Linked DNA regions of Homo sapiens: regions 1, 2, 4, 5, 6 and 7 are each reported to be linked to region 3. The links are microRNA targets in miRTarBase. Many come from high-throughput screens and were not tested one by one. Region 3 holds a microRNA gene; each other region holds the end of a gene's coding sequence.
The links. The annotated mature microRNA hsa-miR-7977 reads UUCCCAGCCAACGCACCA and lies in region 3 at 2,392-2,409, shown strand. An mRNA with a match to its seed (bases 2 to 7 or 8) in the 3' UTR can be bound and repressed. Matches are read on the target gene's strand: a 7mer-m8 pairs with bases 2 to 8, a 7mer-A1 pairs with bases 2 to 7 and ends in A, and an 8mer does both.

Region 1 (4,386 bases), not on the chromosome of region 3:
GGAGCTGGGGTCGCGGCCCGCCGGGGACTCCCAGGAGGCAGGAGAGGGAGGCAGCGGCGGGCGCCGGGACAGGCGGCACGCCCGGGCGGGCAGCACACGGAGGGGACGGCGCGCTGGGCTGTGGGCCGGCGGGTGCCGCGGGAGACCGCGTGGGTACCCAGATGAGACCGTAGTACACGGCGAGCAGCACGGCAGCTAGCGAGACGCAGAGGAAGTAGGCGCATACCGGAGCCAAGCGCAGCCAGCGCCCCCGCGGGCCCTCGCTCAGCCCCGCGCCTCCGGGGCTCTCGGCGCCGCCGCCCACGCAGCTGGTCCCCCGCATCCCCGCAGCCCACTCGGCTCCGCGCCGCAGACCGCACAGGCCCCGCCCCCACCAGGCCCCGCCCCCACCCCGCAGACCGCCCCGCTCTCTAAACCGCCCGCCTCCGGCCCCGCCCCCGCCAGCATGGTCACGCCCCCACGCGAGCTGCCGCCTCCGCATCCTAGGCCCACCCCCTCCAGCCTCCGCCCCACCACCGACAGGCGGAGGTGCTACCCCGCCCCCCTCGCTCCAGCCCCGCCCCCGCGCTTAGCCCCACCACCCCAATCACCGCCTCCTCCCGCCACAACACGGTTCTCTTCCCAGACTCGGACTTCATCCAGCCCAGGCATCTAGCCCGCCTCGGAGCCCGCCCCCTCGTCCCGCTCAAGCCCTGCCTGGAGCCCTAACCCGCCCTGTGCCGCAGCCAGTCTCACTTCTCTACCTGTCGGACTGCTCTACTCCAGTGCTCGAGCCCTGCCCGCTACGGCCTCTGGCTCCCACACTCTAGTTCCGGAATCCCCGCTCTCCTCCCGCGCGGGTTCCCGCGCGACACCCCGACCACGCCCCCGCTGACGGCCCCGCCCCATGCCCATGGCCAGAGCCCCACCCGCGCGCGCTGACCCCGCCCCCCGCTCTAACTCCGCCTGTCAGGATTCCGGCCCCGCCCAGGCAGCCTAGCTCCGCCCCCGCGGGACCCGCCTCCTCCAGCACACTCTCAGCCCGCTTTCAGGTATCCTCAGCACCTCAGGCCCCGAGGTTCCAGCTCCGCCCCTCACCGCAATCGCGCCCCTTCTCCCAGCTCCTCCCCAACGGTCAGCTTTTCCCTCTCCCTAGAGCCAAGGGGTCCAGACTAGGCTCTGGGGTAGAAAGAACACAGCCTGGAAATCCAGATAAACCCCTCCTCACGCCCCCTCCCCATCAAGGCGGGGAAGCTTCAGTCCCCTCCCAGCAGCGTCTTCAGGAATTCGGGGAGGCCTGCGGGAGGGGGGAGGGAAGACGGATCAGAAGGGTGGAGGAAGACCCCTTCCTTCCGCCTCTTCCGCCACAGAAAAGCCCGCCAAGCACAGCGACCCAGCCTGCCCCCTCCAGAAACACAGTTCAAGGGTGAGCGGAAGCACTGCGTTTAATACGACAGGGCTGGCGCCCGAGTAATTCAAGCCCTTCGGAAGTGTCACCGGCTGCCAGGCCTCGGATGCAATCCTGGAGGCGGGAGATTCGGCCTGAAGACTGGCTCGAGCCGCCCAGGGCCTCCATGGGAGACTAACGCGGAAGCGTCCCAGCCGTCCCAGTGCCGTGACGTCCCCCGTTGGTGGGGCCTGCACCCGACTACTGCCCTGGCCCCGCCCGGCTCGCAGACCCTGGCTCCTCCCCCCTTAGATTTAACCCTCTCCTGGCTGGAGTGTGGCAGAAGCAGAGGACAGAGGAGCGAGGCGGTGGGAGGTTAGTGCAGAGCGCGGAGGCCGCGGTCCGGCGGGCGCGGTCAGCGAGCGGCCCCCGGCAGCGGAGGGGCCGCCACCACCTTGCAGAAACGCACCCTCTGGAAGTCGGTGATCTCCGCCGTCTCCTGGCCTTCGGGGCCTGCCTCTGAGGAGAGAAGGGGCTGAGTCAGCGGAGGGGAGCAGTCTTCCCACCTCCCCCCCGGCCCAGCACCCCTCCCCCGTCTAGCCACGTCTCTCATCCAGTTCGAGCCCTTGCCACAGCAGGCTCGGCGCTAAGCGGTTTACGGGGCCCAGACTAATCCTCTCAGCGGACCCACGCAGCAGCAAACACTCCCAACATAACCGTTTACAATCGAGGAAACGCGGGTGTGGCGAGATCTGGCTCCCGACCAACAAGTGGCCCAAGACAGAGGGTCTGGGCCCCCGCGCCACCCAAGGCTGCAAACTGTCCTCTCCCACCCCCGCCCCATCTCACGGCCTTCATCAACCTCCACCAAGCCAGTCCTAGAGGACCCGCCCTCCCCTTTCCTTCGCCAACGCCTGCTATTCTAACCAGTCCTTCCTTGGCTCTGCCCCCAAAATCCTAATCCCACTCTGGGGGAAGGGGAGGCCATCTGAGATTCGAAATCTTACTCCTACGGAGTGTAGGTGGAGAGGGGCTTGGCCTCTTGCTCGCACTTCGTCGGTCCCAAAATGCTGATCGGGTACGCATGTCTATTCTAATTTGCCCCACTAGGTTGCACCTCGGAACTCTAATCCCAGCCACAGTTAAATCCAGTTTTCTGCCCTTGCCCATCTCTTTGGCCTTTTCGAGCCAGTTCAAATTTCGTAGTCTGCCTATAGCTCCTGCCCTAGTACACCAACGCCAACCACCTTTTTTGAGACGGAGTCTTGCTCTGTCGCCCAGGTGGGAGTACAGTGGAGCGATCTCGGCTCACTGCAGCCTCCGCCTCCCAGGTTCAAGCGATCCTCCCGCCTCCCAATTAGCTGGGATTACAGGCATGAGCCAAGGCATCCGATCCACACCCCATTACTCTTAAACCAGTGCTTTCCAAAACCCCTGAGCTCGACTCCAAAATTCTAATCCTTTCCTTAACCCCACCTCCTCAACCTCCATACCAAATTCCTATTGGCTTGGCCCATAAAGTTGCCCCTTTGCCCCACCCCTGCCACCCGGCTCCAGCCCCCCATCCCTATCCGAGCTCACCCTTTTCACCTCACCTCTATGGTCCAACTGCTACCTACACACATTCACCCCACTCCCCCCAAGCCCTCTGCCCCTCAGCCCCAGAGAAAGAGGAAGCAGCGGCCTCCATCCCATGCCCCATGCACTCCCCCACCTGGAGTTGCCTCAGACCCTTCCTCTTCAGCTTCCTGGGTTCCTCGGAGGCTGGGCCCACTCTCCGGGAAGGCAGGGGCTGACTGGCCACCTCCTAGGGAAGGGGAGCCCCAGTCAAGCCCCCTTTCCCGCCTGACATCTCCCCACCCCAAGAGAGAAGGCCCAGGGGGAGTTGAAGGGGGTTCAAGGACACACCTGGGGGAATGTCATTGGAGGATGTGAATTCTTTATTGGGGAGGGGGCTCGAAGGGCTGGGGCAGGCTCTGGGAGTGGACATTCCAGAGACGGGCATGACAGTACAGAAGAGCATGGGCTGCGCTACCCCCTCAGCTGACAGGGCTGTGGGGCACACTGGGTCCCAGGGCCCAGCCCCAAGGGTCCCCCACCAGCCACACCCCTCTAGCGCGCGCGCGCGCGCGCGCGCGCGCGCACACACACACACACACACACACACACACACACACACACACACAGGCAGCCAGCTTCATACACTCTCAAAAGGCCAGGCCTCACCCGGGGAGAGGGCGCCAGCCAGGTGAGTGGTCCGGGGAGAATTCAGCTCCACCTCTTCACCCCAATCGGACACAGGCTGGTGGCCGCTGGGTGGTGAGAAAGGGCTGGAAGGCGTGCCAGGGGCCTGGGGCTCCAGCAGGGGCTCCTCCGGACTGAAGGGGACTCCGTGGGCCTGCTCACTGCAGGGGATCCCGGTGGGGGCAGCCTCTGGGGCTTGGTGGTCTTGGGCTGGTTCCTCCTCATCACCTTCTTCCACCTCGATCTCCTCCTCTTCCTCATCCTCACTTATGTCCTCCCATTCTTCATCCTCTTCCCCCTCATTCTCTTCCCCCTCGTCTTCAGGAGGCCGGTGGGCAGGAGCTGGGATCTCGGGTGGCTTTGGGGACACAGGCAAGTCAGGGCAAGGCACAGGTCCTGAGCCCCCACCCCAGGCCCGTGCCCTGAACCACAGCCCAGCCTCACCTGCATGGGTGTCTCCTTGGGGGAAGTCTCGGGGGAAGTAGGCTGTGGAGTCTCAGGGGCTGGGGATGCTGCCCCTTCTTTTGTCTCCCAGCGGTCATCATGGTCACTAGAGGGAACAGAGGGAGGGGTGATGCCTGGGTGGAGAGTAGACAGGAGGAAGGGGCTTCCTGCCTCCACCCTCCCTAGGGAGGAGCTGCCCAGAGCATCTGGCATGGTGGAGGGCTGAGGGAATGGCGGATGTGTGTCCCCATGTGTCAAGGACAGAACGAAAGTGGGGCAGGTAGCAGGAGAGGAGATGGGTGACGGCAGAAAGGGGACAGATGAGGGTAAAA
Region 2 (4,375 bases), not on the chromosome of region 3:
TATTTTCTTCTAATTTGCTATCACCTTTCTTCTTCATATCTTTCACACTTCTTCTTATTTGATAGACAGTATTCAAATTTTGAAGAGTGGTATTTACCCAAGTAATTTAAGTGGTGGGGCACAAAAGAAAACAAGAAGGAGAAGAAACAGATGGGTATTTTTTTAAAGCCCTTAAAAATTATAACAAATTCTATGTAACACAGGCAATGGAGTATTTCGATGGTAGCAACTGCCAATTTTCCAAAAAGTTTATAATAAAGTGATAATATCATAGTTCATTGTTATTCTACCATCCATAAACTTCAACTGTTCCTTGATGATTCAAATGTCCTGTGGTAAGACTTAACATATATTAAGAGTTGAGATACAATTTGTTAAACAGTCTTGGTGTGTTTTTTGTTTGTTTGTTTGTTTTTGTTTTTGAGAGAGGGAGGAGGTTTAAGTGCAAAAAGGACACATTTGTGACCCTAAAAATGAGATAATACTGTTGAATTTGGTACATGAATTGGTTAAGAATTATTGTGTTTCTATGGATAAACCTTAACATTTTAAATTATTTTCTTTTGAAACTTTAAAAAGTATCCTAACTTTCAATTCTGAAGATGAGGACACACACGGGGGATGGGATAAGCTAAAAATGCCACGGGCTTTCAGAAAGCTGCCTTTGGGATCTTACTTGCATTTCAAAGACACAGGCAGGTTTGGGCGATGAATGGAAAAATACAGAACAGCATGTATTGTTCCTCAAGAAGAAAAATGACTCCCCCACGCTGCTATTACTCTTTTCTGCTTTGATTCCAATGTAACGAGAGCATGCCTATTGGAGCACTTTCAGTACAATTAAGCTGGAATGTCCTGACATTGAATGAGAGATTACATTATTTTCTGAGAAATCCTTAGAATTGGCATCTCCCCAACAGAAAAGAGGCAGAAGGGGGCAGGCGGAGGAGGAAGCAGACCGTTCTGCTTTAGCTTAATTGGTAGCAAACTGAAGCTGGGGTTTTTTTTTTTTAGGTTTGTAAGGGAGGCTTCCTTCATGATATGACCGTAGGATGCTGTCACCCTGACCCGGTTCCTGATGCGTGATGTTTCTAAGTGCTCAGTAAGTACCAATCTACTCCCACACTGCAGTATGTGGGCGTGTGATGCTGAACAGAGAGAGCACGATGTGATCATAGTTAATTCCCTCTGGTATCAAAAAAATAAAAACCTATCAAAAAATAAAAACGTATGTTGCTCTCGTCTGCGTCATCATTGTTGTTCAGACTTTTACATAACATGCCGAAGGAGAAGACTCAGAAAGCCAGGCAGAATCATGAAGAAATAACTGAATAGTTCTGATTCCAAGAACTGTGTGACCTTATGACATTTAAAGAGTGAGGAAGAGAAAGCAACAGGTTCCAAGTATTATAGCAAGCATACCAGCTTTACTTCAGGAAGGCTCGTGGAGAAGCTGTGATCACATTGTGGTTATTTAGATACTTCCAAATGGAAATGGCATTGATAACTATTCAGCTGTGATATGAAGGTACAAAAAAATTTTCCAAAAGGGAAAGGCAGAGAATGGTCAATGCATACTGATTTTCATGAACCACTTCTGGTAAAGGTCTTCTGGCATGTGAGATGCATTTTGTTTTCTTTATTTTATTCCAATCAATGAATGATTCAGTTATTCCAATCAAATGATCGGGTTAGGTTATAATGCCTAAGAAAGTTGAATACTATTGTTAATGCATAAATTAATAAAATCTCTTAGAAATCACTTGGCCAAACTGCCATTAAACCATCTCAAGATGATATTTGAGATTCACAATAAGTGAGGCACTTGAAACATTGGATTGGAAAATACTTTCACATTTTCTCTTTACAATTAAGTGATGCTGGTATTTTCTAACTCCCATGATGAGACTGAAAACTAAAAGAAAAATTAATAATATTATAAAGTCTTTATCTACTGAAACTACTTTATCTACTGAAAACTAAAGAAAAATTAATAATATTATAAAGTCTTTCTAATAAAATGCTTGATGGATTGATATACCATCAACATTGTATATTATGAGATATATATATTTTAAAACTAAAAAATCACCTTCAATGAACAAAGCAAAACTTGCAGCTGTGATGTGGTCGTGACCCTCTGGTTAAGAATGTCCACCTTACAGACGAGGAAGCCAACCAAATGCACCAGCTGGTTGGGCCAGAGAGAACATATGAGTATCTCAGATTCAGTTATTCCAATCAATATCACCAACGTGCATTACAGGATGGAAGTCATACTACTGTCCTTTAACAGATAACACCTGGTCTGATCACCGTAAAACTTTCTTTCAAAAAAATAAAGATAATTTTAGGTTGGTGTTGGAGAAAAACTTACTGAATATTTACATCCCATACCGGCCATCCTCCCTTCATATATTCTGATCTATTTTCCTGGAATAGATAGATTACCATGGCATGGCAGATTTTTTAATGTTTTTGTATATTAATAAATGGATAGTAAACTGAAATTTACTGATGGGGCTAATTTCTAATGCAAATCCCAATAGAAAAAGATGACTGTTTCCTAAATGCTTAGTAACCACTGATCAATGAGACAAGGTTCTACTTTCAAAGCATTCTTTGCACTTGGTGGTTTTATGTTTGACATCCCAATGCATATACAATTTTAACTCACTTTATTGTGTGTAAATATATATATATATATCCTCAAGTGAATGATACTGTTCTCAGGTTTTTCTATATCCAAGGTATACTTTCTTATGTTTTGACATTCGTTTGATTACAACATGCAATTTACAACACCTGGGACTACAACAGGACATTAAACACAGTTCTATCCAGAGGCTACTACTTCTTGGGTAAGGACTAGTTTGGGCTCCTGCACTGAACAATGGTGTGATTATTCGATTTCACAGACAACTTCACAGCAACACGCAAAGCCTAAGCGTAGTTTTGGTTAGCCTGTGTTCTAAGAAATCCACTTCCAGATAAAAACGTGGTTCCCCCATATTGTCTACACACTAAAGCACGCCTTTACCATCTGGCAGAGCCAGATGCTGACTGGGAAGTGAATCCTTCTTTCTCGTGAAACCCAAACCACATGTAAACCATCTGCAGGGTCCTGTGCTGTCAGTGAACTGCATTCCCCAAGCACCTGCTTCTAAGAGATTTTCTTAGGTTGTTTTCCAACTATGGGCTCCATTCAGACTTCAGGCTAACCTCACACAAGGTCAGATCCCACCAGACACAGAATTGTCATTTTTGAGGAGGACTCAATGTTTGGCAAGCGTCCCATTTTGGAACCTCATCCACAAGCACTTGATGAAGCACAATGAATGGACGGCTATTCGTCCATGCCTGACATTTATAAAAGCACAAGGGCTGCCAGAAACCTTGACAGAGAGAAAAATCAATTATTTCTCTCCCTGGCATTAGCCAGCTCTTGCCGACTATTCATCTTACGCGTGATGATGACTAATATCCGTCGGATGGCAAGGAGCCGCTCTTTGAGCGAGGTCATGCCGAGGATGGCCAGCTGAGCCTTGCGCTCCAGGGGCAGCACGGCCAGGATCCACCAGGACCAGGCAGGGCCGCTGGGATTACTCTGCAAAAGAGATGAGGGGAAAGCAAGGTTAACACTGGAAATGCAAGCCTGTTCCCCAACACAGTCTTTTGCTCCACCAACAGACACGTGAGCAAGAATTAAATGCCACCTTGTATTTTAGGGCTAATTCACAATTCATTCAGCTCTCAAAATACATAGTTTACTTTTATGGTACACATTTAAAGGTGGGGGAACTCACAAAAGGAAGAGCCTGCAAAGAGAAGCATCTTCCATGGGGAGATTCTATGAATTAGTTGCTTCTGTTCTCTCAAGCTTTCAGTTAAGAGTATATACCAGTCAGAGGAGAATACTATCACTTTAACCTTCACTTTCCAATGTTCTGTGCTATTATTTTTTATGTCTTAAGCATGCCATATAAAGCATAATATTATAAAGGCTAAAAGTATGTGTACAAGTTTGAGTGACATACTCAATGTGGCAAATGAGTGTATGTATGAAACATATATATGTATGCATGTCATATGCAAGAGTTATCATAAATTATATATATAAGAATTATTATGCCACCAAATAACCTTTATTTCACATAATCAAACAAAGCACTTCTAGACTAAGTGCTAGGCAAAAGCCGATCATAAACTCGTTCTCAATATTCTTAGTACTGGAACCAAGATATCCAGGCCTTTTTGTTTCCAGGGTCTAGGATTCTTCACTCTATTCCTTCTCCAAAAATGTGCAGGATGCCGATAAGAGCTGGGAGGGTGAACTCTGGAGTCACCTTAGTTTAGGGTGAGGTAGATTATGCTG
Region 3 (4,386 bases):
TCTGGTTTTTGGTCTATCATGGACAGTTTAGAGTAATTAAGAGGTTTAGCCCTGGTTTATCGTAGGCCCTCTAATATGCACATTTAAAAGTGCTTTCTTTTCCATTTATCTGCTGAGTTATTGAGGTTCCAATCAGGGTTGTCTACTTGAACTGCTTCTCTTCCTAGTGGGAATGGAGTTTCCATTACTTCTTCACCTTCCCTATCTCCTTTTTTTCTCTTTGGTCTGCCATAGGAGATGTTGTTCATCTTCATATTTTTCTGCTGCCTGCAGAACTGCTTGCTTTTCAGCTTCAGTGAGGCCTGACTTAGGAGCAACATAACATCCCTCCATGTGAGGTCAAACACCTGAGTTAAATTTTGGAAAATTTCTATATATTTATTGGGGTCATCAGAAAATCTGCTTAAGTCTCCCTTTAATTGCTTAAGGTCCTGTAATGAGAAGGGAACGTGAACCCTCATGGCACGATTTTCATCAGGCACTTCCTGCAGAGATAAGAATGAAGTGGGGAAAGTGGGTAATACTGGAGATGGTGGACCTGGAGGACCTGATGGTATGATTGGAGGGGCTTCTGGATGAGGGGAACTGAGTTGAGACATTCAATAGCTGTCTCAGATTGCTCCTCTGGAATCTGCTTTAGCTCTGGGGGACTATTCCTTGTGGGCTTGCCTGTCATGCTGCTAAAAGAACTGGGTCAATTGTACAAAGCTTGTAAAGGTCTGGGTCGTCTCGCAGGGCAAAGAAAGCCTGTACATTGGGTATCTCAGACCATTTGTCCTTCCATCTGCAGAAAATATCTAATTGTTGGACAGTATTAAAATGAAGGCTCCCCCCAGCAGGCCAGGTTTGTCTGTCTTAAAGATGGTAAGAAGGCCATGCCCTTATGCCATAGAATATGAGGTGCTCTTTCTACAAAGTCTCAGGGTTGAAGCAGTCCCAGTGCTTTAGAATATACTCCAGGGGAGTACATGCTGAACATGATCTGTTACCCATCTAGAAAGAGAAGTGAGAAAAAGGTGTCTCTTTTGTCTCCTTCCTCTCTCTGTATAACCCAGAGTGGAGAAGAAGACAGTGGGAGCGTCCCCCCAACTGTTTTCCTTCCTTGGTTCCTGGGTCCCAGCACCCTGTTAAATGTGCTGCCCATGGTTGTATGTGTGACCCTCCAAGCCATGGCACCAAAGAAACCAAGCAACTGGGGCTAGTCATGCTCATTCAAGTAGCTCTAGTCCTCTGCCTGTGATTTCCCTTTGACTTCCTAGACTTGTGTGACCTGTGTGCCTCCCTTAAAAAAAATTGACCTTGGGAAAGATTATATAAAAGGCAAGTGTCCTTTAATGGAGGGAATGTGCTAGATTGCCTGCTACTATGGCCCGTGTTAAAGCCTTAACCCTTAGAAAAATGGTTCTGGTTAACTTTCAGACTTAAAATCCCCTTACTAATTAAGGACTGTCTTATTGGAGACAGAATAGTTTCCTTAAAGGGATGTGGGGGCCTAATCGTGACTTTCCTGTTGATGGGACAGGATCAGGACTCAAATTTGGCTGCAGAGGACAATTTACTCCTAATTGTTGAAGGCAGAATTTTCCTGTTCACAGAAGCAGCATAAAGCCTGGTTTCCAGTAGGAAGGGGCAAAAAGGAAAAATTAGGAAGCTGCGGTGGACTGTAGCGGACAAGCAATGCGTCTTATGAAGAGGGTGTCTATTTCCACTAGGTGGCGCTGTTGGCTTAGGAATACTATGTGCCACCAGCAGCATAGTAGGGACTCATCTCACAACCGGGGTTTCAGAGACCTCTGTTCCTAGAAGATTGCAACAGCATTTTCCTGAGCTATAGCCCCGGTTATTACAGCATTTCCTGATCTTGCCTAACAGGATTACTTCCCTAGGCTGTAAAAATTCCCACACATTCGACACACAAAGAGAATAAGAGGCATAGCGACCGTGGATAGAAACAGAAAAAAAGTTTTGCGACAGGATAACTGGGGATCTTTTACCAACACCTGGGCAGGCTGCTGGAGGCTGAGTCCGGTCCAGAAGCTTTTGAATAACACTAGGAAATGCCCTGGCCAGAAATTCTCAGTTGCTTCAGAACTTTTCCCCGCCTTATGCAATGGCTAATTTTCCCCATGAACAGAAAAGCTGGTTTGAAGCACGGCCAACATTCCCAATGACCCAGGGTATTGGAGGGAGGGGGGTCTTCATGTTCTCCCCAGCAAGGCTGACATGCGAGTCTTTAAGAATGGCAGCCACACTAAGCATATCTAGATGGTTGACAGATGCTGTTATTGATTTGATTTGATTTTAAAATGGAAGCCAAGAGCCTCGGAATGAAAGGACAGGTTTTGAGTTTGCTCTTCTGCTCACCAACCCCAATGGATATTGTACCTTGGTTTCCCAGCCAACGCACCAAAAATGATATGGGTCTGTTGTCTGGAGAAACACCCAAGGTCCTTGTTCTCGCACGGAGAAAATTAGCGACACGGATACACGTGGAGTGGTTTAAGGAGTGGAATGTTTAATAGGCAAGAAAGAAGAAAACAGCTCCCTCATACAGAGGGAGGAGGGCTCCAAATGGAAAACCCCACATGTAGCAGAAAGCAGTCGGTTATATTGGGAGGCTGGACGACGTGGTGTTTGGTTTGCATAGGAGCCAGGGGATTGGTTTGACCAGGTGTGTCATTCACATAGCCTGCAAAAAAGCCAGCTCTCCCACCCTAGCCTTTAAATATGCACATATGGCTACCTGGCTGGTCACCATGATGTTCTGCATACGTGGCAACAAAGAAAAAGTCACGGGAACCACCATATTGGTTGGACCTGGCTTCTAGCCACCAGCATTTGCATATCAATGCTTGCAGGTCTGGTTTTTCAGGCCACTTTCTGTTAGAAAAGAAATGTTTTGGGGCTTGCTTTTTTATTAAAAGAAAAAGCCTTACCAAGGACTCTTTTCCCCTCTCTTGCTGCCTAAAATAATTTCTTAATAACTCCTGTAATACTAGTGATTCTTCGATCAGGAATACAACTTTTCTATAATTTGTGATTTCAAACGTGTCAAGATGGCAGTGACATCATTTTTTCCCATGTGCTTTCTGCTTCTTCGCTTAGAAAATCAGTGGCAGATTTCTCCCAGTAAAGAAGACATATTATTTTAATGTTGCCAAATATTTTATAAATTATTCCCTGACTTATGCTCAAACAGTGACTATAGTTGAAACATCATCCTGCAATGAAGCTCAAAGTATACCAGTCTTACCTATGCGTTCAGAGCTTCAAACAGTTTTTAAAATCTCCGTCTTTAAACGTGAGAAGATAAGCAAGAATTAACAGTTGAAGAAGGCTTCTTTTGTGAAAGAAAAGTACTGGGAAAACAAAACAAAACAAAACAAAAACTGGAGGAGAGAGATAATATAAAAAAGAAAATGTTTAAAGCTTATCGTTGTCTTAAAAGAAGTTTCGTTAATTAAACAAAAAGAGCTTTCTGATTTTAAAATTACTGTAGGCCAGGCATAGCAGTTCGCACCTGTAATCCCAGCAATTTGGGAGGCCTAGGCAGGTGAATTACTTAAGCTCAGGAGTTCAAGACCAACCTGGGCAATATGGCAAAACCCCATCTCTACAAAAAATACAAAAATTAGCCAAGTATGGTGGCACATGTCTGTGGTCTCAGCCACTCAGGAGGCTGAGGTGGGAGGATGGCTTGAGCCTGGCAGACAGAGGTTGCAGTGAGCCTAGATCACATCACTGCACTCCAGCCCAGGGACAGAGCGAAACCCTGTCTCAATAAATAAATAAACAAACAAACAAATAAAATTACTATGGAGCTATAGAAATCAAAATAGTGTGGTACTGACATAAAGATAGGCCTATAAATAAGGTAATGGAACTGAGAGTCCAGAAGTAAAGCCTTCTAATTGTGTCAACTTTTTCTTCAAAAAATTTGCCAGGCCAATTCAATGAGAAAGGACAGTCTTTTCCACAACTAATTTTAGGACTATTGAATATCCAACATGCAGAAAGGATAAATTTAGGCCTTTATCTCAAACTATGCACACAAATTGACTCAATATGGATCAAAGATCTAAATGTAAGAGCTAAAACTGTAAAACTTTTAGAAGAAAATGCAGGAGAAAATCTTTTTGACCTTGGCTAGTCAATAATTTCTTAAATATAACATTGAGACCACAATCCATTAAAATAAATAAACTATAGTCAAATTGGTCATCAAAATTAGAATCTTGGGTACTTCTAAAGAAATAGCTGACAGAATGAAAAGATAATCCACAGACTGGAAGAAAATATTTGCAATATGTTTCTGATAAGGCATTTACATCCAGAATATGTAAAGAACCAAATAGATGACAACAAGCTCAATAAAAACTTAAACAA
Region 4 (4,382 bases), not on the chromosome of region 3:
ATTTTTTCACAAAGCCTTAATAAGTCTATTTTATTTTCAAATTCATTAACTCCTTTTAATGATCCTCCCTTCTTTCTTATATTGACTTATTTTTCCCTTAGTTTCTTGAGTTTAATGCTTCTTCATTCTTTTAACAGTTTTATAAGTGATTACTATGTTAAAGAGACAGTATTAAGTCACTGGGAGTAGAGTGGTGAGCAGGAGAAACAAAGTGCTGGCCCTCAATATTTGTTTCCTGAATATATTAACAGGTTACTGATTTTTCACTGAGCACAGGTTTGGCCACATTCACAAATTCTGATCTTACCATTCATTTCTAAATTGTCCTTTATGGTTTCATTTTCTTTTTGATCTAGTGTCATTATATTATTGGAGATTTTAAATTTCCGAAATGCCAAAGTACTACTCTACAGATCGTTTACTAAATTAAAAGAAATATTTAGCTCTACAACAGAGAAACCTGGTGATTACCATATGAAGCAAGTATTTCAGTTACCTATCGCTGTGTGGCAAACTACTCCAAAACTTAGTGGCTTAAAACAGGCCATATTTTAAACGTAAATCTGCAATTTGGGCAGGCTCATGGGGGAAAGCTTTTCTCTGCTCCACTTAGCACCAGCTAGGATAGCCTGAAGGCTAAGGGTTAGAATCATCTGAAGGCTCATACCCTCATACACTTGGTGCTGGATCCCGGCTGTTACCTCAATTACAGCTGTAATCAGGACAGCTTTACTTAGCTTTTCTATGTGATTACTTGGCATCTTCATAGCATGGTGGCTGGGCTTCATCCCAAGTGGGTCAGGCAGAAGCTGTATTGCCTTTTATGACTTAGTCGTGGAAATCACAGTGTTATTCCTGCCATAAACACAGGCCCACCTGGCCAGATTCAAAAGGAAGGACCATGAGCTCTACCTCTTGGGGAGTGTTGGTATCACATTGTAAGATGAACATGCAGAATGGGATATATTGGTGTGGCCATCTTTGGAATGTATGTTCTGCTACACCAAGTGAATGAACTAAGGATACCATAGTGGTATAATGACATTGTATGCCACCTAATGGGTTACAAATTGAAATACAAAATTTCTCCCATTAAGTATTCTTGCCAAAATATTTAATCTGTCCCTAATTGGGTCTCTAATCCCAAATTCCAGTTAATGGGAAATACTGGGGATAAAAAAGCACATTTAAAAATACTTTGGGAAGGCCGGGTGCGGTGGCTCATGCCTGTAATCCCAGCACTTTGGGAGGCTGAGGCGGGCAGATCACCAGGTCAGGAGATCGAGACCGTCCTGGCTAACATGGTGAAACCCCGTCTCTACTAAAAATACAAAAAATTAGCCGGGCATGGTTGAAGGCGCCTGTAGTCCCAGCTACTGGGGAGGCTGAGGCAGAATTGCCTGAACCCGGGAGGCGGAGCTTGCAGTGAGCCAAGATCGCACCACTGCACTCCAGCCTGGGCGACAGAGACTCCATCTCAAAAAAAAAAAAAAAAAAAAAAAAAAAAAGTCAATGTTGCAATAAAGTTGTGGGGGGAAGGGCCATTCTTACTTTAAAAGAGACGAACAATGCACAAATGTAATTCATGAATTTGGTTCCTGAATTTAAAAATAACCTATGAAAAGCATTGTTTACACAAATGAAAAGAATGAACACAACTGAGAATATGAACACAGACTGAATATTACAGATTATGGAATTATTGCTAATCTCCTTAGGTGTGAAGTTACTGGGGGTCAAATCTTTTGGCTTCCCTGGGTTACACTGGAAGAAGAATTATCTTGGGCTACACATAAAATGTGCTAACAATGGCGGATGAGCTTAAAAAAAATCACAAAAAAAATCTCATGTTTTAAGACAGCTTACAAATTTCTGTTGGACTGCATTCAAAGCTGCCCTGGGGCACAGACAGGTTGGACAATTGTTATATAGCAATTAAGTAGGAGGCAGCCTTTATTCTTAGATGTGATGTGTTATAGTATCTGCAATTTATACTCAAATACTACAGCAAAATATGTAAATATTATGTATAAGCAAACCAAATGTGACAACATATTAACAATTGCTGAATCTAGATAGAACATAACTGTTCATTATTCTTTTAAGTTTTCCAAATGGATAGTGGCTGTTTTTAATTTATCATTGTGGGCAGAAAAAGCGACTGACATACCTGCTTTTTGGGTTATAAAAAGAAAAAAGCATTACAGCTATCCCTGAGTCTTCAAAACTTTACTCTCATAATCTTCACACCCATCAAATCTAGAGATTTCTTTCTCACATTAATTTTCAGAGATAGGTTCTGACTTTATAAATGGAAGTTTAATCTATTTTACTGGATATTATCTCCAGTTAATTATTCCAATCTAAATAAGGAGTGAAAGGTAATGGACAGTTTTTACAAATTTCTTACACCCACAGGGCCTTCCTCTCACATGAATGTACTAAATGTATCCCCAATGAAAAAAATAAAGCAATATTTATTGATAAAATGCTGTGTGCCAAATACTCTTTTAAAGGTTTTATCTTTTATTAGCATTTCATCCTCACAAAAATACTATTAGGTGGTACTGTTATTACCATTTTAAAAACCAAGGCACAGGGGCATGTTTTGCCAAACACCACATAGGCAGAGGTGGAATTATGAGAATTATATTATTTATATATATCATAAAGATAGGCCAAGGCTGGTCTTTCCCATGTTCATTACATTAACAGAATCATTTTCCGTTACAGTGCTATATAAAGTGTGGTCCATGTGTTGACACTGGCCCACAAATTGTTTGCTTCTGGTCTCTGCAAAAGTTATAGATACCAAGAGCAAGTATTTAGAAATGTTTGCAGCAATCTGACAGAGTTAACTCAGTTAAATACCATAATAAAAAACTGGGGCTTTTATTTTGTATGTCTGTTTTTTTCTTTTCATTTTTCTGGTAATCTATTTATTTATTTATTTAAGAGACAGAGTCTTGCTCTGTTGCCCAAGCTAGAGTGCAGTGGTGCGATCTCAGCTCACTGCAACCTCTGCCACTTAGGTTCATGCAATTTTCCTGCCTCAGCCTCCTGAGTAGCTGGGATTACAGGCACCCCCCACAATGCCTAGCTAATTTGTGTATTTTAGTAGAGAAGGGGTTTCACCATGTTGGCCAGGCTGGTCTTGAACTCCTGACCTCAGGTGATCTGCTCACCTGGGCCTCCCATAGTGCTGGGATTACAGGTGTGAGCCACTGTGCCTGGCCCGCATTTTATTTATTTATTTAGAGACAGGATCTCACTCTGTCACCAAGCTGGAGTGCAGTGGCACAATCATGGCTCACTAAAGCCATGAGGCAGGGTCTCACTATGTTGCCCAGGCTGGTTTCGAACTCCTGTCTTTCCACAGTGCTGGGATTACAGGTGTGAGCCACTTCACCTGGCCCATTATTATTGCATTTTAGAGAAGCACTGTTCAACAACAGTTTGTAGGGGAAAAGGCCCTTGATGGTTTGGGATGCAGTGCATCAGTATCAATCTTCTAAAGTCTAACAGGGACTGAGTGATGCTATAGTCTTTCGACTCTTTAACATACGAAATAATTTCTGATAAATTGTGAGCATGAAGTAAAAGGGATTCCCACATGTTCCGTAACAAACAGAAAATTTCTTAAATTACAAATTCTCTGCTAAAGGGCATTTTCTAAAGGCCATCGTATTCTCTTTACATTATGCATAGGACTTCCTCACTAATATGATTTCTCTGATGTAAAGTAAGTTGATCACTACGAATAAAGGCTTTTCCACATTCTTTACATTGATAGGGTTTTTCACCAGTATGAATTCTGTGATGTCGAGTAAGTTCTGAATTAACACTGAAGGCTTTCCCACATTCTTTACATTTATAGGGTTTCTCACCCGTGTGAACTATGTGATGTCGAGTAAGTTCTGCTTGAAGACGAAAGGCATTCCCACATTCTTTACAGCTATAAGGTTTCTCACCAGTATGAAGTCTAAAATGTTGAGTAAGATGATACCGACGACTAAAGGTCTTTCCACATTCCTTACATTCATATGGAAGCTCACCAGTGTGAATTCTTTGATGTAATGTAAGTCGATAACTGCAAATAAAAGCATTCCCACATTCATTACATATGTAGGGCTTCTCACCAGTATGGCCTCTGTGATGTTGAGTAAGATGATAGTGCCGACTAAACGTCTTCCCACATTCCGTACATTCGTAGGGTTTCTCACCAGTATGAATTCTGTGATGTTGCGTGAGATGAGTGCTACGAATAAAGGCCTTCCCACATTCTGTACATTTATAGGGTTTTTCACCAGTATGAATTCTGTGATGCTGAGTAAGTTCTGTTTGAAATCGAAAGGCTTTCCCACATTCATTACATATGTAGG
Region 5 (4,386 bases), not on the chromosome of region 3:
TATATGCTCAGTAAATGTTGGTATCTTACTGATTGTTTTGAAACATCATTAACAGTTTTTAAATCATTTCGGTTAAAAACAGCAGTACTGATCATGTTTGTATAGAGCTTAATGTAGCCTGCTGAAACTTTGAAGATTAATTTGAGTCTTTCTCTACACAGAGTGAAAAGAAGATAAAGACAACAGTACTAACAGCTGCACTTCTATTGTCGGGAATTCCTGCCGAAGTGATAAATCGATCAATGGATACCTATAGCAAAATGGGCGAAGTCTTCACAGATCTCTGTGTCTACTTTTTCACTTTTATCTTTTGTCATGAACTGCTTGATTATTGGGGCTCTGAAGTACCATGAAGCCTGTAGAACTGAGAAGGAGAAGCTTACAAAAAAAAAAAAATCCTCTTCTATATTGCAGTGTCTCTAAAGGAGGCAAATTGGTTTACACCTTCATGTAATTCTTTTACTTTAGGGGTTGTAAAGCTACTTTATTAGATATAGAATGGCAGATTCTCTGATTTAAAAGGGCTGAGTTTGTATTATTACTGATATGAAGAATAGAGTACCAATGTCATTAATTGATTTTTCTTGTTAATCAGAATTCCTATTCTGTACCTTTCCTCTAACTTCTCAGATTTGTAATTCTTCTTTTGGGAGCTGAGCTAGTGCTTTTAGGAGAACAGATAAATGTGGTCTCAGCCAGCCCTAGAGACTGCTTCTTGTGTTTGTGTCATTCTGTCCTGAGAAATGAAGTCATCTGAAAAATAAAATGAAAGAAACTGAATTGTCTAATGTTAACTCTGCACATTGTAACTTTTCTTGTTGAGTTAGTATCTTAATTTTTACTCCAGCACAAGTATTTAATCAAAGAAAAGATTCATACATGTGAAATTGGAAGGTATTTATAAAATTTTTATTGCTGTATACCAAACTCAGAATTGGAACTTTTTACATTTGAGTTTCACTTTTTAGAAGTATGTTTTAAGCAAGCAAAAACAAAATGGGATGTGAAGAATTGAGGCATGCAACCCAATAGCATAAATGTCCTTTTTCCCCCCAAATATGGTCTAGATGAGTTATTATAAACATTGTTTTTATTTTTTTGAGACAGAGTTTCGCTCTTGTTGCCCAGGCTAGAGTGCAATGGCGCCATCTCGGCTCACCGCAACCTCCACCTTCCTGGTTCAAGGGATTCTCCTGCCTCAGCCTCCCAAGTAGCTGGGATTACAGGCATGCACCACCACGCCCAGCTAATTTTTATATTCTTTAGTAAAGACAGGGTTTCTCCATGTTGGTCAGGCTGGTCTCGAACTTCTGACCTCAGGTGATCTGCCCACCTCGGCCTCCCAAAGTGCTGGGATTACAGGCGTGAGCCACTGCACCTGGCCTTATAAATATCCTTTTAACTAACTCAGTAACTGCCATATTTTGTTGGGTTGTCTTCTTAAAAGAATATAAGACTAAAGTGTTAATGTCACTTGGTGTTACATTTCCTTACAGATTTTTGTATAGTCTAATTTGGTTAATCCTTGTGACATTAAAAACACATACACTTTTTAAAAAATTACTCTTTAAGTCTTGATTTCTGTCATTTCATTTTGAACCAGGGTAATGAAGAATAATTTAAGTCTATTCTTCTGATTTGGGTGAAAGATTATAAGCACACATTTTTCCTGATTCCATAATGAATCTAGTATCTAAAGGGTTGTAAATCATCCTTAAAGTTGTCACTTCCTTAATCGCTGAGAAGATACTAGTGGTCTTCAATTGCACATTGCACATGTTTACTCTTTTGGTGCTTTTTTTTTTTTCCAAACAGTGTTTACCACTGTTGTCCAGGCTGGAGTGTAGTGGTAGCACAATCATGGCTCACTGGAGCCTTGATTGACCTCCTGGGCTCAAGCAATCCTCCTGTCTCAGCCTCCCAAGTAACTGGGACCATTAATGCCTGGCTAATTTTTTGATTTTTTGTAGAGACAGGATCTTACCATGTTACCCAGGCTGGTCTCAAACTGGGCTCAAGCAGTCCTCCTGCCTTGGCCTCCCAAAATGCTAGGATTACAGGTATGAGCCATTGTGCCTGGCCTACTTTTCTTTCTTAAAAAAAAAAAATCATTTAGCCAGCTGACACATGCAAAATTTTAGTAATTGTAGATCATTATCAAATTTATATTTTGAAGACAGTTATAAGATATCTGTATCTATTGGTGCCATTTTTTGTCTTTAACTGATAGGCATCTCCCTGATCATTTGCTTGATTTGTTGAATAATATCAAGTAGAAATGAAAGTTTTTTTTGTTTGTTTGTGTTGTTTTTTTTTTTTCTGAGACAGAGTTTCGTTCTTGTTGCCCAGGCTGGAGTGCAATGGCACAATCTCGGCTCACTGTAGCCTCTGCCTCTGGGGTTCAAGCAATTCTCCTGCCTCAGCCTCCCGAGTAGCTGAGTTTATAGGCATGCACTACCACGCCCAGCTAATTTTGTATTTTTAGTAGAGACGGGGTTTCTCCATGTTGGTCAGGCTGGTCTGGAACTCCAAAGCTCAGGTGATCCACCTGCCTCGGCCTCCCAAAGTGCTGGGATTACAGGTGTAAGCCACTGCGCCCGGCCTGTTTTGTTGTGTTTTGTTTGACAGTTTCACTCTGTTGCCCAGGCTGGAGTGCAGTGGCATGATGTACAACCTCTGCCTCTCAGGTTCAAGCAGTGCTCACGCCTCAGCCTCCTGAGTAGTGAGTAGCTGGGATTACAGGCATTGCCACCATGCCTGGCTAATTTTTGTATTTTTAGTAGAGATGGCGGTTTCACCATGTTGGCCAGGCAGGTCTCAAACTCCTGACCTCAAGTGATCTGCCTGTCTCAGCCTCCCAATTTGCTGAGATTAAAAGTGTGAGGCCGGGCGTGGTGGCTCACGCCTGTAATTCCAGCACTTTGGGAAGCCGAGGCGGGCAGATCATGAGGTCAGGAGATCGAGACCATCCTGGCTAACACGGTGAAACCCCGTCTCTACTAAAAATACAAAAAATTAGCCAGGCATGGTGGCAGGCACCTGTAGTCCCAGCTACTCGGGAGGCTGAGGCAGGAGAATGGCATGAACCTGGGAGGCGGAGCTTGCAGTGAGCCAAGATCGTGCCACTGCACTCCAGCCTGGGCGACAGAGCAAGTCTCTGTCTCAAAAAAAAAAAAAAGTGTGAGCCACTGCAGCCGACCTGAAAGTTTCTTTTTTTTGAGACAAGGTCTCACTATGTTGCCCCTGTCGGAGTGCAGTGGCATGATCAGGGCTCACTGCAGCCTTGCTTTCCCAGGCCCAAGCAATCTTCCCACCTCAGCCTTGCAAGTAGCTGGGACCACAGGCATGTGCCACCACCCCTGGCTAATTTTTGTTTTGTTTTTTTCAGAACAGAGTCTCTGTCGCCCAGGCTGGAGTGCAGTGATGTCAGTCTCAGCTTACTGCAGCCTCTGCCCGCCCCCCGGGCTGGTTCAAGCGATTCTCATGCCTCAGCTTCCCGAGTAGCTGGGATTACAGATGCATGCCACCACATCTGGCTAATTTTTTGTATTTTTAGTAGAGACAGGTTTCACCATGTTGGCCAGGCTGGTCTCGAACTCCTGGCCTCATGTGATCCACCCACCTTGGCCTCCCAAAGTGCTGGGATTACAAGCGAGAACCACTGCGCCTGGCCTGGGAATTGAAGTTTCTTAGTGTTTGGAATAGTTTAAAACGTTTTTTATTTGGAAATTTCTGGGTTTTGAAATGTATATGGACTGGCTGGGCACCATGACTCATGCCTGTAATGCCAGCACTTTGGGAGGCCGAGGCGGGTGGATCACTTGAAGTCAGGAGTTTGAAACCAGCCTGGCCAACATGGTGAAACCCTGTCTCTACTAAAAAAACCAAACCAAAACAAAAAAAAATTAGCCAGGTGTGGTGGCGGGCGCGTCTGTAATCCCAGCTACTCAAGAGGCTGAGGCATGAGAATCACTTGAACCCGGGAGGCAGAGGTTGCAGTGAACTGAGATCGCGCCACTGCACTCCAGCCTGGACAACAGAGTGAGACTCTGTCTCAAAAAAAAAAAAAAAAGGTATATGGATTAAAACTAGAGGGACAAGGATGGTTGTTTAGAGGTGACATCTTGACCATGTAACCTAGTAGTTTTTTTAGTTCAATTAGTTGTGTAAATGGACATGTGTCATCACAGTTGGCACTAAAAACAGCAAGTGGGTTATTAGATATTCAATACTGGGTTAGTAAGTCAAGTCACAGTCAAAATCTGCTGCTTTGGAAAACAGGTTAGTTTACTGAAAGTGATGTATTAGAACACAGACTATAGTCATTTCTTTCACCTATCTAAATAGATAAAATCTTCCAGCCTCACACCTGTAATCCCAGCACTT
Region 6 (4,386 bases), not on the chromosome of region 3:
ATTGTAGCGTTAAGGTGGATACCTGCCAAAGCTCATCTCCTAGTGCTGTCCTCATTCTCAGAAAGTTCCTGAGTCAACAGAAAGGGGACGCCCAGGGTATGGAATAAGGAGATGAGAGCATGCTCTGCCAACTGGCTGGGACCTGAATGTGCTAGGCAAGTTCCACTACATCAGCTCAAGAACATAAACAAAAATGTAATTTAAAAAACAGATGGTTTAAAAAAATATCTGATAAAAATTACCTATCCCTCTCCCTTGCTGTGAAATAATTTAAATAATTTATTCTAGATGTAAAAATAATAATACAAAAAAGTTTGTTCAAAGACACCTGTGTCCTGTTTGTTAAGTGTGCAGTCTGGGTCCCTTGGGGTGGAGGGAGCTGGCCAAGGAATGGCATTGTGCAGAGGCATACCGGGAAGCTCTCTGGATGCAACCCCACCTCTACCGCTTGGCAGTCAATGACCTTGGCATGATGTTTCTTCACTTCTCTGAGGCTAGGTCTTTGATTCTGAACATGGGGACTGTAATGCCTGCCTGACCTGTGTTAGAACAGCATGTGTCACTGAGTGGAGGTGGGAGGAATTTGTAAACTGTGAAGTGCTAGCCACACAGGTGGGAAAGGTAAGCCTATCCTGTAGAGCTCTGCTGCCCTGACAATGCCTGGGATTTGGCCTTCTTTTCTGGAGCACACTAAGGCAATCTTGGCTAGTGCATCAGACGGGAGTGAGCCCCAGTGACTGAGTAAATGGAGAATAAGACAAGGAACACGAGCATCCGGCCTGTGCAGACATACAAGCAGAATAAACCACAGCTGGGTAAGGGGCAAACAGGGGCACTGAACCCCCATCGTGCTGCAGCTGCGGTTCCCAGAGATGTTGAGGGAGGGCTTGGGGCAACACTTCTGGACTTTTAAGGAGCCACCAGGCAGGACTTAAGAGATCTGGGTTGAGTCCCAGCTCCTGTCTGGAGCTTGCTGTCCTCTTCATCTTTATTGCAAATAGGTACACATGCAGTCTTCCATCTTCACTGTACTGCAGATCACCTGTGGAGCTTATATGACCATACAGGCCCTACTCTGGAGATTCAGCTTCAGTTGGTCTGGAATGTGGCATGGGCATCTGTATTTCCTGCACGCTCCCAAGGGAATTCTAATGTACACAGCTTGGGTTGAAACCTACCAGACTAGGTGGCCTCCTGCAGTCCCCACCTCAGCTCCAGAATCTAATCGCCCTGTGCAATGGAGATCATCTGCCCCTCCTTGGTAAGGAGGGACCAATTTCACTTCTAATCATTCCCAGTCTCTTGGTGGACTATTGTATTGACCACTGAACTTTAGAGTAGGGCTCGGAACACAGATTCACTAAGGAGGGACAAAGAAAAGCTTTCAGGCTAAAAGGGAACTTTGGGACCATCTGGTACTACTTCTTTACCTCGTATAGTCATTTCAGAAGACCTCCTGGTTAGGTGGCCAGAGGCTCTGCTGGCATGTCTCCAGTGATGGGGGCCCCCTACCTCCTGGGGGACTCTTCTGTTAACTAGGGCTGAAATCTGCCCACATCATCCTGCAGGAGGCAGGCTGTGTACCTGAGGGCCTTGGTGGTGGCAGTCAGCAGTCATGGGCACAGTTCTGAAGTCTGCGTCCCTCCATAAGGGACAGCATCTATCCATATCAGGCTGATTCTGGTTGGAAAGGTTGGTTTTGACCACCTGCCTGTGTTGTAGAATTGGGTTGAATGCCTCTGACCCCTTGCCAGTGTCCGTTAGTTTCTGTAGCAAACCCAGATCACCCCACAGGTAGTTTTCTCTTAGGTCAAGGTTTCAGGTGGCAGATCCTGCAGAGAGCAGCTTGTTCCAGGGTACCCCTGGTTCAGATGAAGAAACTGAGACCAGAGAGGGCAGGACTTGCAAGAGGTCACTGAGTAAGCTGGGGCACAGCTGAGGCCAGAAGCAACAGATTTCTACTCTTTGGGCTGAGAACTGCATCAGACCCAAAAGAGCAAAAAGACAGACCCAGAAAAGCAGGATCTCAGCCCAGCCCTGCCATGAAACAAATATCACTTGCCTCTCTCTAGGCCTTAGTTTCCCCAGCTGTAAAATGAGGAACTTGGGTCAAATCACTAGCTTTCAAACTTCTAAAAAAATTTTTTTTTCCTAGCAGAATTGTTTTTCATACTAGCCCAACATATAAAATAGAAGGGAGCTGTCTGGTTGGAATACAGTGTGGGGAAGGGAGACACAGCCTTCCTGCTTAGTCTTCCCCTATTCTCTCTCTCTTTTTTTTTTTTTTTTTGGAGATGGAGTCTCGCTCTGTCACCCAGGCTGCAGTGCAGTCCGCAATCGTGGCTCATAGCAACCTCCACCTCCCAGGTTCAAGCAATTCTCCTATCTCAGCCTCCCGAATAGCAGGGACTACAGACGCTCACCACCACGGCTGGCCAACTTTTTTTTTTTGAGACGGAGTCTCACTCTGTCACCCAGGCTGGAGTGAAGTGGCATGATCTTGGTTCACTGCAACCTCCGCCTCCCAGGCTCAAGCGATTCTCCTGCCTCAGCCTCCCAAATAGCTGGGATTACAGGCATGCACCACCATGCCTGGTTAATTTTTTATTTTTAGTGGAGACGGGGTTTCACCATGTTGGCCAGGCTGGTCTTGAACTCCTGACCTCAGAAGATCCGCCCAGCTTGGCCTCCCAAAGTTCTGGGATTATAGGCGTGAACCACCACGCCCTGCCTAATTTTTGTATTTTTAGTAGAGACGGGGTTTCACCATGTTGGCCAGGCTGGTTTCTTTCTTTTTTTTTTTTTTTTGAGACAGACTTTTGCTCTTATTGCCCAGGTTAGAGTGCAGTGGCACAATCTCAGCTCACTGCAACCCCCGCCTTCCGGTTTCAAGCAATTCTCCTGCCTCAGCCTCCCAAGTCGCTGGAATTACAGGCGCCTGCCACCACGCCCAGCTAATTTTTTTGTATTTTTAGTAGAGATGGGGTTTCACCATGTTGGTCAGGCTGGTCTCGAACTGCTGACCTCGTGATCCACCAGCCTCGGCCTCCCAACATGCTGGAATTACAGGCGTGAGCCACTGCGCCTGGTGAGACTGGTTTCAAACTCCCGACCTCAAGCAATCCGCCCACCTCAGCCTCCCAGAGTGCTGGGATTACAGGCATGAGCCACTGCGTCTGGCCCAGTCTTCCCCTATTCTCTGGACCACAGTTTGAAAATCACAGACAGGTCAACCTAGATCCTTCCAGCTCTAGTTTTCTACTGTGTTCTTTCCTCTTGAGAAGTTACAGCTCATCATGGGCCCTTAATAACAGAATTCAACAGAAGGCATCATCTGAAAACAAAGTCAATTCAGAAACTGTTGTTGCAAGAAGGCAAACAGAAAAACGGCACCATGTCCCACTGGAATCTCTTTCAGCGATGGAGAGTTTTGTTTTCTGGTAAAAAATATAGAAATAGTGGTTGTCCTTGAGGGGACTTGTGGTTTGGTTCTAAACCTCCCCATGGAGCCGAGTGGTGTCCCTGAGGGTGAGGAGGGCAGAGGTCTCTGCTCAGAGCTGCTCTGAGCCCATCCGCAAGTTTTTGATCTCCAGTTCCAACTGTTTGGCCTGGACCTCTCGCTGGGTCAACAGCTCCCGGAGCCTTCGGATCTCCTCCTGTTGCCGGTAGAACATCTGCAGCAACTGGGGAAGAAAGATCGGAAGGCAGGATCACCATGGTGTCAGGACACCAGCTGAAAGCTAAACCACTATCCCTCTTTGACTCAGAAAGGTGGAGGCGGTCACATTAACATGGCTGAGGCCTGATGGGGCTGTCACTGCATAGATCTTTTACAAACACCTTGTTTACTTCACCCAATAAATGAAATTCAAGAAGACTGGAATGTTTCAGATGTATTTTGCTTCCATAGATCCTCCATGAAATAGAGGAAAGGATGCCTGGCTCTGAAGTCTGGGGATTGGTGTTTTCGCCACCACTGAACTGTGTGACCTTGGGCAAGTTACTTACCCACTCTGAGCTTCCATTCCTTCCTCTGGAAAATGGGGTCAGAAAACTGCCCTCTGTGCAGAATGGGTGTTAGATATTGAGTGATGCCCTAAGGGCCTCGTTATCCCACTGGAACGTTGTGACACCCCTATAAGGGTGGCAGTGCTAGTGTCCCCACCGTACCACCGTGGAAACGGAAGCTTAGAGACATTCAGTCTCTGGGTCTAAGACCCTAAATTAGTACTCAGCAGAGCCAGGATCAGAATCCATCTGTGAGATGCCAGCCTCTGTGTTCTTAGCCACTACAGACTGACTTCCAGGGCTGTTGAGAGAATTCAATCACGTGCTGTATCAAAGTGCCTACCCCAGGATCTGCCACACAGTAGGCACTAAACAAAT
Region 7 (4,337 bases), not on the chromosome of region 3:
TTCCTTCTTACTTTCTATGTCAAATTTAGCTAATCACTGGATTCATCAGAAGCCTAGGGGGTTCAGTGTCGAGATAAACATACCTAGGACACCCCATGTTTCTGGGTTATCCTTAGATACGATGAGGTGGAGAGATTCCAGTCACAGAGAGAGGCTGTAAAGAGCAAGCAGGCAGTTGGAGAGAGCTACCAATCCCAGACACTCCAGCAGTTATGGTGACTGCCTGGATGGTCACTCACAGAGGAGGAAAAAGTAGTGAGAGAACTGGAGACAAGGGGGAAATGCAGGTCTTTCTGTACAACAGCAGCTTCCAATCAGAGAAACAGATGATGGGTATCCAGCTATGCAATCCACAAAGGACAAAGTCCCCTGCTTTGGCACAGTCTGATTGTTGGGATGAAACATGCCTAGAGGTAGAGTGAGCCCTTTCTAGGTTAACATAACCAGATATGGGACACCTGCCATTCACTGCAAAGTGCTTCATATAGCTGGCTGCATTCATCTGCTTAATAAAACCAGATAATGAAACAAACCCCCTTTTCCAGTTCCCCAGAGCCCTGCTGTAAAGAAGGTGCCTTTAATTAGAGTCAGACTGCACAGCACTGGGGCTCAGCTGTACTATAGTTTGATGCTGCAAGGCAGAAAAGTTACCGTGTATTTTCTAGGCAAGTAAAATGCAGATGATGTTTAATATCAGATATCTCTCCAAGGAAAGAACATTCTGTAGCTCAGACAAATAATGCAAGTTTGGGTTAATTTTTGGTTTGTCTTTTAAACATAGTACATTCAGGCTTTTGTTTGTGATCAGGGCAATAATGACAGATATAATTACTTAGAGATGAAGAAACCAAAACCAAGACACAAGGAGGCTGAGTAACTTGCCCAAGGCTCACACAGTTACTAACAGCAGGGCCAAGATTCAAACTCCGCTAGTCTGGCTTTTAATGTTGTTGTATTGATTTATTACTCTTTTTAGTCTGTCTTTAAGAGCTCACTTTCCTAGATGTTGTGGAACACTTGAGAGGGATGTGGTACTCTGAAAGGAGGGGCTGCAAATCACTCTATGTCCAGCAGCTGTGGGATGGAATGGTCAGTCTGTGAGGTCAGTCTCTGTACATAGTCTTCAGGCTCAAGTCAAGATGTCTCTTCTTGGCCAGGTGCAATGGCTCATGCCTGTAATCTCAGCACTTTGGGAGGCCAAGGTGGTAGGATTGCTTTAGCCCAGAATTTCAAGACCAGCCTAGGCAACATAGTCTCTATTAAAAAATAATAAAATAATTTTTAAAAAGGTATTTCTTTTTAAAATATCTTCTCTCTAAAGATATATGTACAAGGGTGTTAACTGCAGCATTGTTTTAAGAGTAAAAAGGTTTGAACCAACCTAGATTTCTATCAAAAGTAAGCCAGAAAAGTAAATGATGGTGCAAATACACAATGAAAAAACAGGCAGCTGTAATAAAGAAAGGAAACTATGTACTGACATGGAACTGTTGCCAACATATATCTGAAAAAAGCAAGGTTCAGAATAGCGTACAGTTTACCATTTGTGCAAAGCAAGGAAAAAGACCACATGTGTTTTTGCTTGTATAGACAGAGATCTCTGGAAGAATATACAAGCAACTGTAATACTTGTTGCCTCTGAGTGGGAAGTAGTCGCTGTGGGGAAAGGGTGAGAGGCATTTCATTCTACGCCATTTTGTACCTTTAATTTCAAACTATGTGAACATATTGCCTACTCAAAAAGTGTATGTCTGTACTCTCTTAAAAATGAATTACAATATGTAAACTAAACACAGAACATATAAAAATTGACATATACCCATGCAATCTATAAACAAAACACATGTATGGGGAAACAAGAAGTTATTAAATCAAGGTGGTAACAATCTTTTCCTTTTGTTCTCTATTTTTCCAGAATTCTTATGATGTGGTTATAGTAAGTACTTTTAAAGCATTTTTTCCACATTTAACTTACTTCCTCCATGACTCTACCAGTATTTTGATCAGTAATCATGGGCAGAAGAATGGAAATGAAGACTAAGGACTCCAGAATCCCAAAATTCACAGTATATTCAACAAAGAAAAAATCCCTACCATCCTTAAAAAGTTGGCAATCAATAGTTTCCAACCCTTTATGAAAATACATGGGGTATAGGCTGGGCGTGGTGGCTCACGCCTGTAATCCCAGCATTTTAGAGGCCTAGGCAGGTGGATCACTTAAGGTCAGGAATTTGAGACCAGCCTGGCCAACATGGTGAAACCCTGTCTCTACAGAAAAACAAAAATTAGCTGGGTGTGATGGCATATGCCTGTAGTCCCAGCTACTTGGGAGGTTGAGGTGGGAGGATGGCTTGAGTCTGGGAGGTGGAGGTTGCAGTGAGCTGAGATTGCACTACTGTACTCCAGCTTGGGCAACAGAGTCAGATCTTGTTTCAAAAATTAAAATTAAAATTAAAAATAAAGGAGAGGTGGAGAAAAGAGAGAAAACTTCTAATGTAAAAGAAAAATAAAGAAAAAAGCACATCAAGTTGTCATAAAATCATTGCCTGTGTGTTCATGACGTCAGATAAAATAGATTTGGAAACATTCAAATGCCAGCTGAAGGAAAGGAGTTTCTCCCACCCCTGAAACAAGGTAAACAGTGACCCACCTCTGTAATAAAAAGGAAACACGACAGTCAGGAGGTTAACAGAGCTCATCTGTTGCCACGATCTGCAGCTTGGCCTCTTAGGCTGACATTCACTTGAAGTCTATCATCTGATACAGTCACTTTCTTGGTTGTAATCTATGAGCTGCTGGTGTTTACTTGTGAGACTGTCTGGGAGCAGGAAGGGAAGGAAGGTAAATACACCAAAGCCCAGCTGAGCAACTGACAGGTTTTACATTTTATTTCCAGGAAATGAGATAGTATTTTCACAAAGAAGAGGTAAGCCATCCTCTCAAAATAGACACTGCCTTCAGAGGCAGCCATGGGGTACACCCAACCTATCCAAAACAACTGTCAACGGAGGTGTTTCCGAGGTATCAAAACAGTAACAACAACAACAAATTAAAAAAAAACAGAAGAGAACTCAAATAACTCTTTCGACATGTAGTGAGGCAGAGTCTACGAAGTACCCTGAAGCAGTTGGGTGCCGTGAATCCTGGTGGTGCTTCAGCCAATGATGGCAGCAGGGCTGGCCACCGTGGAAGGCAAGTGACTGAGGGCTTCCTAACTCAAGTCTCTGTCCCACAAGACTTCTCAGTTGACCTTCAGAGCAGCGGAGTCACGGCTAGAGAGAATCCTCCAGACCATCTCAGGCTCGCACTACCTGGCAGTCTTTCAAATGCCCTTAGAGCACGGTCTTCAGAACAATCTCTTTGCTTTGGAGAAAAAGAAGAGAAATAAATAAATGAGGAGCCTGTATTTCCCTTCCGTGGACTCCCTGCTTCCAGCCTCGCCACCCTGTCTCTTCCTCACACAGCAGCCATAGCGAACTGAGAAAACAGAAGTCAGATCATGTCACTCTCTGCTCAAAGCCCACTCCTCATTCCTCTCACAGTGAGTTAAAGTCAAAGTCCTTTCAAAGGCCTACAAGGCCCTACAAAATCTGCGTCTTGCTCAAGCTTCCTCTCCTACCCACTCCCCAGCGCTCACTCCACTCCCCAGCACTAGCCTCCTTGCTGCCCCTCCCACATACCAGCATGCTCCCCCTTACCATTCCCTCTTTCCCTACATGGCAGCATGGCCACCTCCTTCAGAGCTTCCCTCAAATAGTTCCTGCTCAGAGGTGCCTTCCTTGATTACCCTATCAAGAATTGCCAAGGCTTTCACCATCACCCCTTCTCCCCTTCTTGCTTGATTTTTCTCCATAGCATTAATTACATCTAACTTAGATTTTCACTTTTTACATTCTCAGCATCTAGAACAGTGCCTAGCACAAATCTGGCCCTCAATATATCTGTTAAAGATGTTAAAGAAAGGAATGAATTATATACAGGAATAGGCAGGGAGAGGCGGGAATTCTTCCTGTGTTCAGAGAGGGAGGGGACAAGAAAGGCTGTTTACTTACTAGCCTCCAGGCTTTTCCAATAGTCCGCTTCCTTGTGGGAATCCTGGCCTATGCCAAAGGCACAATAAAGTCACCAACCAAATTGTCCCCTTTCTCTGAGACTGAATTCTGGAATGCTTTGTTAGGGGGATTGAAAGGACTACAGAAGTTATTCGTCTCCCACTTCTGGGTAGCCTTTGAGGTGGTGGGCCTTGGGGCTGGGCATGCCCTCAGCCTTGGAGAGAGAGAACCAAGTAGGGTTCCCTCCCTCTTAGCTAACAGCCTCAACTATTAGCTCACAGAAGA

Region 1: the mRNA of CCDC9 is a reported target of hsa-miR-7977. The part of its 3' UTR that is shown has no 7-base or 8-base seed match.
Region 2: miRTarBase lists LONRF2 as a target of hsa-miR-7977. The part of its 3' UTR that is shown has no 7-base or 8-base seed match.
Region 4: miRTarBase lists ZNF546 as a target of hsa-miR-7977. Seed matches in the 3' UTR shown: 7mer-m8 at 1,368-1,374 and 7mer-m8 at 1,234-1,240.
Region 5: miRTarBase lists CAMLG as a target of hsa-miR-7977. Seed matches in the 3' UTR shown: 7mer-m8 at 1,214-1,220 and 7mer-m8 at 1,350-1,356.
Region 6: the mRNA of CORO2A is a reported target of hsa-miR-7977. Seed matches in the 3' UTR shown: 7mer-A1 at 1,292-1,298, 7mer-m8 at 951-957 and 7mer-A1 at 864-870.
Region 7: miRTarBase lists RNF8 as a target of hsa-miR-7977. Seed matches in the 3' UTR shown: 7mer-m8 at 2,316-2,322 and 7mer-m8 at 2,183-2,189.

What each region holds. Positions count from the first base shown.
Region 1 is chr19:47,270,856-47,275,241 of GRCh38, reverse strand. It overlaps CCDC9 (coiled-coil domain containing 9), which reads right to left. Exons shown (of 12, transcript NM_015603.3): 11 at 4,055-4,160; 12 at 3,289-3,968. The coding sequence ends at 3,564. INAFM1 (InaF motif containing 1) reads right to left here and starts at 357. Exons shown (of 1, transcript NM_178511.6): 1 at 1-357. The coding sequence starts at 322. RefSeq lists silencers at 1-435, 796-1,055, 1,666-1,975.
Region 2 is chr2:100,280,886-100,285,260 of GRCh38, forward strand. It overlaps LONRF2 (LON peptidase N-terminal domain and ring finger 2), which reads right to left. Exons shown (of 12, transcript NM_198461.4): 12 at 1-3,607. The coding sequence ends at 3,413. Among named protein-coding and RNA genes, the nearest start is that of LONRF2, 39 kb to the right of the region's middle.
Region 3 is chr3:176,512,712-176,517,097 of GRCh38, forward strand. MIR7977 (microRNA 7977) reads left to right here and starts at 2,392; the gene lies at 2,392-2,440.
Region 4 is chr19:40,015,093-40,019,474 of GRCh38, reverse strand. ZNF546 (zinc finger protein 546) reads right to left here. Exons shown (of 7, transcript NM_178544.5): 7 at 1-4,382. The coding sequence ends at 3,694. Among named protein-coding and RNA genes, the nearest start is that of ZNF546, 20 kb to the right of the region's middle. RefSeq lists an enhancer at 3,688-4,382.
Region 5 is chr5:134,750,598-134,754,983 of GRCh38, forward strand. CAMLG (calcium modulating ligand) reads left to right here. Exons shown (of 4, transcript NM_001745.4): 4 at 162-1,560. The coding sequence ends at 353. Among named protein-coding and RNA genes, the nearest start is that of DDX46, 6.0 kb to the right of the region's middle.
Region 6 is chr9:98,121,223-98,125,608 of GRCh38, forward strand. It overlaps CORO2A (coronin 2A), which reads right to left. Exons shown (of 12, transcript NM_052820.4): 12 at 1-3,683. The coding sequence ends at 3,552. Among named protein-coding and RNA genes, the nearest start is that of TRIM14, 4.2 kb to the left of the region's middle.
Region 7 is chr6:37,389,768-37,394,104 of GRCh38, reverse strand. It overlaps RNF8 (ring finger protein 8), which reads right to left. Exons shown (of 8, transcript NM_003958.4): 8 at 1-3,363. The coding sequence ends at 3,347. Among named protein-coding and RNA genes, the nearest start is that of RNF8, 38 kb to the right of the region's middle.